Linked DNA regions of Homo sapiens. The protein of the gene in region 2 purifies or fractionates together with the protein of the main gene of each other region. This does not show direct contact. Each region holds a gene or a part of one and is shown on either strand. Other genes may lie near its edges.

The links.
Region 1: the proteins of ZDHHC8 (region 2) and GDPD5 purify together in Homo sapiens (co-immunoprecipitation; one large-scale study listed by IntAct). This does not show direct contact.

What each region holds. Positions count from the first base shown.
Region 1 is NC_000011.10:75,445,942-75,449,441, forward strand, and holds part of GDPD5 (glycerophosphodiester phosphodiesterase domain-containing protein 5), read right to left. Parts: intron 3,182-3,500; coding exon 3,036-3,181; intron 2,709-3,035; exon of another isoform or gene 2,551-2,708; intron 1-2,550. UniProt on the Homo sapiens protein: Glycerophosphodiester phosphodiesterase that promotes neurite formation and drives spinal motor neuron differentiation.
Region 2 is NC_000022.11:20,134,804-20,138,303, reverse strand, and holds part of ZDHHC8 (palmitoyltransferase ZDHHC8), read right to left. Parts: intron 1-3,500. UniProt on the Homo sapiens protein: Palmitoyltransferase that catalyzes the addition of palmitate onto various protein substrates and therefore functions in several unrelated biological processes.

The DNA of each region.
Region 1 (3,500 bases), on a different chromosome or scaffold from region 2:
TCTTCTCCTGTCCCTGGCATACAGCACTCTTGGAGGACATGTTACCTGTCTCCCAGTCCAGTGGGTTGTGTGAGGCACTCCCAGGGGAAGCAGGACTACAAAGGCATGGAGAGAGAGGCAAGGACTCAGTGGAATCCCACCCATCTCTGAATATCCTGCGGCCAGGCCTTCCATCAGGGACCACTTGACAGGGGTCCACGCTCCCTGCTGCATGGGCTGGGGCTGCAGAAGGCAGAAGCTTGGAAGGGGTTGCGAAGACCCTCAGGGCAGAGGAAGTGTTTGGGAAGGGGAAAGTCTTTTTTGGAAGCTTTTAGACACAGTTAAGTTCTCTCTGGGTTAGGTGCTGACCTCCTGGAGAAAGAGATATGGAAACCTGGCCCTCCCTGGCCAGGCTCAGGACTCCAGGAAGGCCCCAGAAGCATACACGTTGCTGGGGTGAATTCTTAGTCCCCGTCTCAGAGCTCGCACCTGCCTCAGGCCAGTCCAAGTGGGGTTCTGTTGTCAGGAGGGTGTGCATAGGGGGGTGGTGGTTACTCAGGTGGGTGGGACACTATGGTTAAGAGACCCAGATTTATAAAACAGCAACTCAAAGTACTATTAAAAAAGAGTCTTAGCTTCAGAGTTAGTGCAATCAAATATTAAAGTACACGTACACACATGCACAGAGGGACAGGCCACATCTGCATAGGAACAACACATCCAGGGACACACAGACAGTCTCCAAGACAGAGATGTGCACTTGGGCTCACCACACACAGACATGTGGACCCAGAGTCAGAGCCCCCCAAGGCAATGCACAGGGACACACAGAGGGGACCCTTGCCAGCCCCTCAAAAACTACCACCAGGGCATGATCAGTCAGATGCAGAATGTGAAAAATCCCACAGGACAAATGACTCCATTTCTCAGGACAAATAAACAGCTTAAGGGAAAAAAGGGACGGGGAACTTTTTTTTTTTGAGACGGAATTTCACTCTTGTTGCCCAGGCTGGAGTGCAATGGCGCAATCTCGGCTCGCTGCAACCTCCGCCTCCCGGATTCAAGCAATTCTCCTGTCTCAGCCTCCCAAGTAGCTGGGATTACAGGCATGTACCACCACATCCAGCTAATGTTGTATTTTTAGTAGAGATGGGGTTTCTCCATGTTGATCAGGCTGGTCTCGAACTCCTGACCTCAGGTGATCTGCCTGCCTTGGCCTCCCAAAGTGCTGGGATTACAAGCATGAGCCACTGAGCCCAGCCGGGGGATTGTTACAAATCAAAAGGCACTCAGGAGACACGCCAACCAGATGCGTGCTGTGGACCACATTTGGATCCTGATTTTTAACAACTAAACTGTAAAAAGATATTTTCGAGACAATAAAAGGAAATTGAACATGGATTCCATTTTAGATAATATTAAGGAATCATTATCCTTAATATTGGCTGGGTGTAATAACAGCATTGTTGCTATGCATCTTTCTGAAGTCCTCATGTGTTACAGATACATCCTGAAGTGCCTATGGGTAAGACGATGCGATGCCTAAGATTTGCTTTACTACCCCAGAAAAAAAAGTAGGGAACAGATGAAGCAAGAATGGCCAAACGTAGATAAGTATGGGATTGGATTCATTACATCCTTCTTCATTATGTGAGTCATTATATGCTTTTCTCCACTTCTGCATATATTTGACCTTTTTCTACTAAAGAAAACCATCCTCGCTGGGGCCACCTTCCTGCTTCAGCATACCACTTATGTCCCCTGGCTGCTGGAGGGAGCCCAGGAGATGGTAATCTGAGTCATGGAGACAGGAGGGGCCATCGTTTTAAGCCCCTCAGAAGAGTTCCCCTGCCCCCACTGGGAAGGCTGGGCTCCAATTGGTCCTCACAATAACCAGCAGCATGGGCATCCATACCTTTGAGGCACAGAGGGGACTGGTGACCCCTCCAAGATGCACAGGCAGCATGTGGCCAAACTGGACACCAGATCCAGATCCCCACTGGCTGCCTCTGGGAGGGACTGGGGTCAGCACTGGAGTCTGGCTCAGGGGCTGGAGTCTTATCGAGAAAATAATACCCACCACATGCAGGGGGCCAGACTTCCAGAGTGAGTGGCAGCCCGGCAGACCCAGCACCTCCTTCCAAAGCAGTTATGTGAGACCCCCTTACTACCCTGAGGTCCCACAACAGCCTGGAACACCAGGAAGCCAAGCCCTCAGGAAGTGCTCACACACACCCCCACTTGGCAGGGTGGGGGTGTGTACTACCTCTGCTAAGAAGCCTGGGTTCAAGGCTTTCATGGAGCAGGAGACCCTGCTCCAGAGAGATGGCCCTGCCCAAGGTAACAGCAGTGTCTGCCTCTTACTTTCTGTGCACCATGTGCATATTTGGGCACTGCACACATGCTAACTCCTGCTCCTCATAGCCCCACAGCAGGTGCTCTCACTAGTCCCATGGTACAAGATGGGGGAACCAGGCAAAGAGATGGAAACTGTTGGGCCTCCCACAGCTGGTGAGGAGCTGTGCTGGGATGCTAACTCAGGCAACATGGCTCTGGAGCCTGCCCTCTCACCGAAGCTCTCCTGCAGGGCTATGGAGTGCACTGGTGGCAGAATGCGGCGCTGACTTTGATCCCTTCGTCTTTCTCCAACTCACGTCGGTTCAGCCGTACTCACTGTCACAGTGGGCTCTGAGCTGCCTCCCAGCTCTCCTGGAGGGTTCTCCTGATGCCTGGTGGCAGACCCCAGGCCCCACACTCAGCATCCATCTCCTGGGCCTTCCTAACTGGCACCTGGGTCTAGCCTGGGCCTAAAACCCTCCTGCATCTTTGCAGGGCACTTAGGACAAAACTGAAATCTTTTTAGCAAGATGCCTTCAGGACGCTTCAAGATGTGCTTCCATCCCAGCACTCCCGGCCTTTTTGCCAGTCCTTCCCATGTACCTCCCCTCAAAAAGCTACAAATGGTTGCTACCATTACATATATCCATTTCCCAAGAAGGTCCCCCCCATCGCACCCCACCCCAACGGGGCTGTTAGGACCCTGAGGTGGCACTCACCATGGGGGCCCCGCGGTGGCCAATGAGAGCAGGCTTGGGGCCGAGGTCTTTCTTCTCCATGATGCAGGGAGAGGAGATGGTGAGAGGGGCCAGGTAGAGGGCAAACACCACGGTGAAGAAGGTACAGAGAATGGTCACCTGGGAGGCTGCAGATAAGGGGCCGTGAGTGCTGCCTGGTGAGCCCTGGGCAGGTTGGGGTGCAATGCTGGACCCCTCTACCCCCGACCTGTCAGGATCCAGGTGCTCTAGGGGGAAGCCCTTATTCTTGCTGGGAAGATGAACCCCGCCTCTAACTCACACAGACACAGGTGCATACATGCAGAGAGAGAGACATGGAGGAGGAATACAGTGTGAGGCCGACTGAAGCTGTGACCCTCCGTGGACTCTGTGGGCCACTCTGAGCCAGAATCCCCCTCACTGAGTGCAGGGGCCCCACCCCATCCCCAGGCCACCCCCAGGGAAAGC
Region 2 (3,500 bases):
CCTGAGACAGCTGCTGTGACAAGCAGCAGGGACAGGAACACAGGGGTTTGCGTCCCTCCCTGCACCCAGGCCCTCTGCATAGTCGGGGGGCTAGTGGGGATCCCCCACAGCAGCCCTGACCTCTATGGCCACTAGCAGTGGATGGGGCCCACGCGCTGCCTACCACTCCAGCGCACGTGGCCACGCTGCTGCACCCACGCCCGCCTGGCCAAGAGCCAGCCCCGCCGCCCCGGCAACCACCTCCACGGCAGCAGAGCTTCACTATTTTTAGTGGAAAGCAAGAGGCTATTTAAAGACTCCGCTTCCCACGACAGCCATCCTCGGCGGGGCTGGGAGCCCAAGTTACCCTTCCTCTTGTCCAGGGCCCAGCCCGTGGAGGTAGACACCAGGGTGAGGACACAGCTGCGGCCACACCTCCCTCTGCTGGGAGGGCTCTCCCTGTCCCTGCCCAGTGGCTCAGCCCCCAGGCTTCCTTCCACCCTCCCCAGCCCTGCCTGGCACACAGGCAGCACTCAAACATGTGCCTGGCCTCCAATGCAACGCCATTCAGCCAGGACCACAGGCCCCTAAGGCAGGGTCGGCCCAACAAGATGGGCACAGGCAGGTGAGCAGCTCCCCCAGGGAGAGGCAGGGCCTGTGGAGCTCTCCACGAGCCTTCTGGGGAAGGCTGGCTACATAGTCTGTGCAAAATGAAACTGCGGGCCCCTTATTTAAAAATTACAGAGAATTTCAAGATGTTGACAGCGGAGCATTAAACCAAACGCAGGCCCTCATGATGCCCGTGGGGCTGGCCTGCTCTGGGAAGGGATGCGGCGAGTGCCATTGGTCAACCCTCGGGCTGCAAGGAGGCAGCCTCTGTCCTCCCAGTGCTGACCTCAGGATGGAAGCCTCGGGGCCCCTCTGCACCTGCGCTGGCTGCCAGCCTGCCTCCTGGCCCTAACGGGGGCCTTGGGGGTGTGTTCGCCCATCAGGCAGGCGGGGCCTGAACCCCATGCTGACTTGAGCTCCCTGCCAGCCCAAGCAGGCGGTACTGCTGTGTCCTCCCTGAGCCTGGACTCCCCCACACCAGGCGGGCTGGACAGCAGCCTTGCAGCCGTGGGGCTACTTTGGGAAATCTGCAGTGTGACCGGGTCCCTCCTGCCCAGTGCGGGTACCTGCCACATGCCTGTGAGGGCCCATATGGGCCCTAATCCAGGGGTTGGGGAGGCTTGTTGTGGGTTCTCTGACTGGGACCTGAGCTGCTGCCCACTCCTCCAGTCCTCCAGAGTGAGGCAACTGTCCTCTCTGTAGTCCCCAAGGTCAGATCCTGCCTAACAGGGACCAGCTCACAGGCCAACCCACCAGGGCCCAGAGCTCTCAGGGCTCAGTGGGAGAGAAGATGAGGAGCACACGCAGGCACCTACAGACACGTGTGAAGACATGGACACACACACAAACATGCTCCAGGGCACATGTGCATGGGTATGTGTGCACACACACAAATATACAGGCATGTACACACATAAACACACAGACAACCTGTTCTGGTGCACAGAAGGCACACATGCACACATGCAATCATGTCTGCATACAAAACACATATACATGCATGAACACTTGCATGCAGACATGCACACGTGCACACACTGGTGCACATGCATGAACGCAGACACGCCTGCACATCACTCACCCACCAAGACCTATGTGTGAACACGCGTGAACACAGGCATGCATAGACACATGCCTCCTCACACTGCACCCAGCCCTATCCAGCCTCGGCTCGGCTGCCCCTCACTCTGGGCCTCAGACACGGCCCTCCCACTCTCTGGGCTTCCCTTTGCCCCTCTGTGGATAGGGCAAGTGTGAGGACACACAAGCACTCTCAGGGTGCGCAAGAACACGGGAGGACACACAAGGACATGCAAGGATGCATGAGGACACATGGGGACAGGGGAGGCCATGTGTGGATGCTCAGGGACACTCAAAGACACGCATTCCCACAGGCAGGGCCTAGCAGGCAGTAGTCTGGGTCCAGGCTCGGGGAGGCTCCACTCCCACCCAGACCTGATGGTGCACACCAGGCTCGCCTGCCGGAGGGCCAGGCAAAGACAGGCTCTGGGCCTGGGCTGGAGGTGGAGTGTCTGGCCCGCCATGTCCCTCTGAGCCCCTCCTGGCTGGCTCCAGCCAAGCTACGGGTGGAGGGCAGGTCCAGGGGGCCCAGCCCCGAGGTTCCAATCCCTCCTCCAGGGCCACAGGCAGGGACATGCACCACCACCATAGGCCCCACCCGGGCTGAGGCCCCAAGTCCCGCCTGGGCTGGCAGGGAGATACCGCCGAGCAAGAGGGGTGGCTTAGGGGCAGAATGTCCGCCACAGCTAAATGTGGAATGGAAAATTTTAACTCAGACGTTTTCATTTAAATCAGGTTCTTCATTAGCACTGTTTGTGTATGAGTGGCACTCGCCCGTGGGGCGCTCGGGACCGGCGGGGCAGAAGCTGCTGCGCCCTTGTCAGGCCAGGCCTTTGGGCCTCGAAGTACCTGCACCTACCTGTCCAATCCCTATAGACACCTGGACAGATGGGGAAACTGAGGCTCGGGGGCCAGGAATACCCCAGGCCACATGCGGTGGGTCCCAGCAGGGGGGCTCACACTGAGTTTTCACTCCCAGGTTCCCCAGACTCATGAGGTCCCAGTCAGCAGTTCAGTCCCTCCTGGCCCACCAAGGCTAGTCTGGCCCAGGGCCTGTTCTGACTGCTGTCCTGAGCTGGGCCTCCAGGCAAGGAGAGGGCTCAGGACGATCTAGGGACCAGCCACACCATCCCAGATGCCCCAGACAGAGATAAGCCAGCCTGGCTCAGCCCCAGGCACTGGCAGCCTGCCAGGCAGCCCCAGCCCTCGGACATTCACAGGGTCCCTGTCATTCTGCAATGTGGCTCTGGAGTGAAGTCAGGGCAGGGTCGGGAGCCTGGCCTAGGGGTCTTCGAACCCTCTGCCAGCAGCTGACCCAGCCTAGCATTATACCATGGTATAAAGGGCTTCTGAAGCCCAGGGGGATACAAAACCCCCAGAAACATAGGAAGGGGCCGGGAGCAGTGATCACACATGTAATCCCAGCACTTTGGGAGGCTAAGGCTGGCAGATCACCTGAGCTCAGGAGAATAGCCTGGGCAACATAGCGAGACCCCATCTCTACTAAAAAAAAACAAAAAAACAAAAAATAAATAAATTAGCCAGGTGTGAGGGTGCCCACCTGTCATCCCAGGTACTCAGGAGGCTGAGGTGGGATGATCACTTGCGCCCAGGAGGTCGAGACTGCAGTGAGCCGAGGTAGCACCACTGCACTCTGGCCTGGGTGACAGAGTGAGACCCTGTCTCAAACAAACAAACAACAACAAAATCCTAGGAAGGCTTCCTGAAGGAAGAGGGCCTCTGAGAAACTGCCCTGCTGTATGTGCCCCATCCTGAGAGGGTGCTCTTCACAACTGGGCATCCTTCCATGCCCAGACCCTCCTAGAGAGATG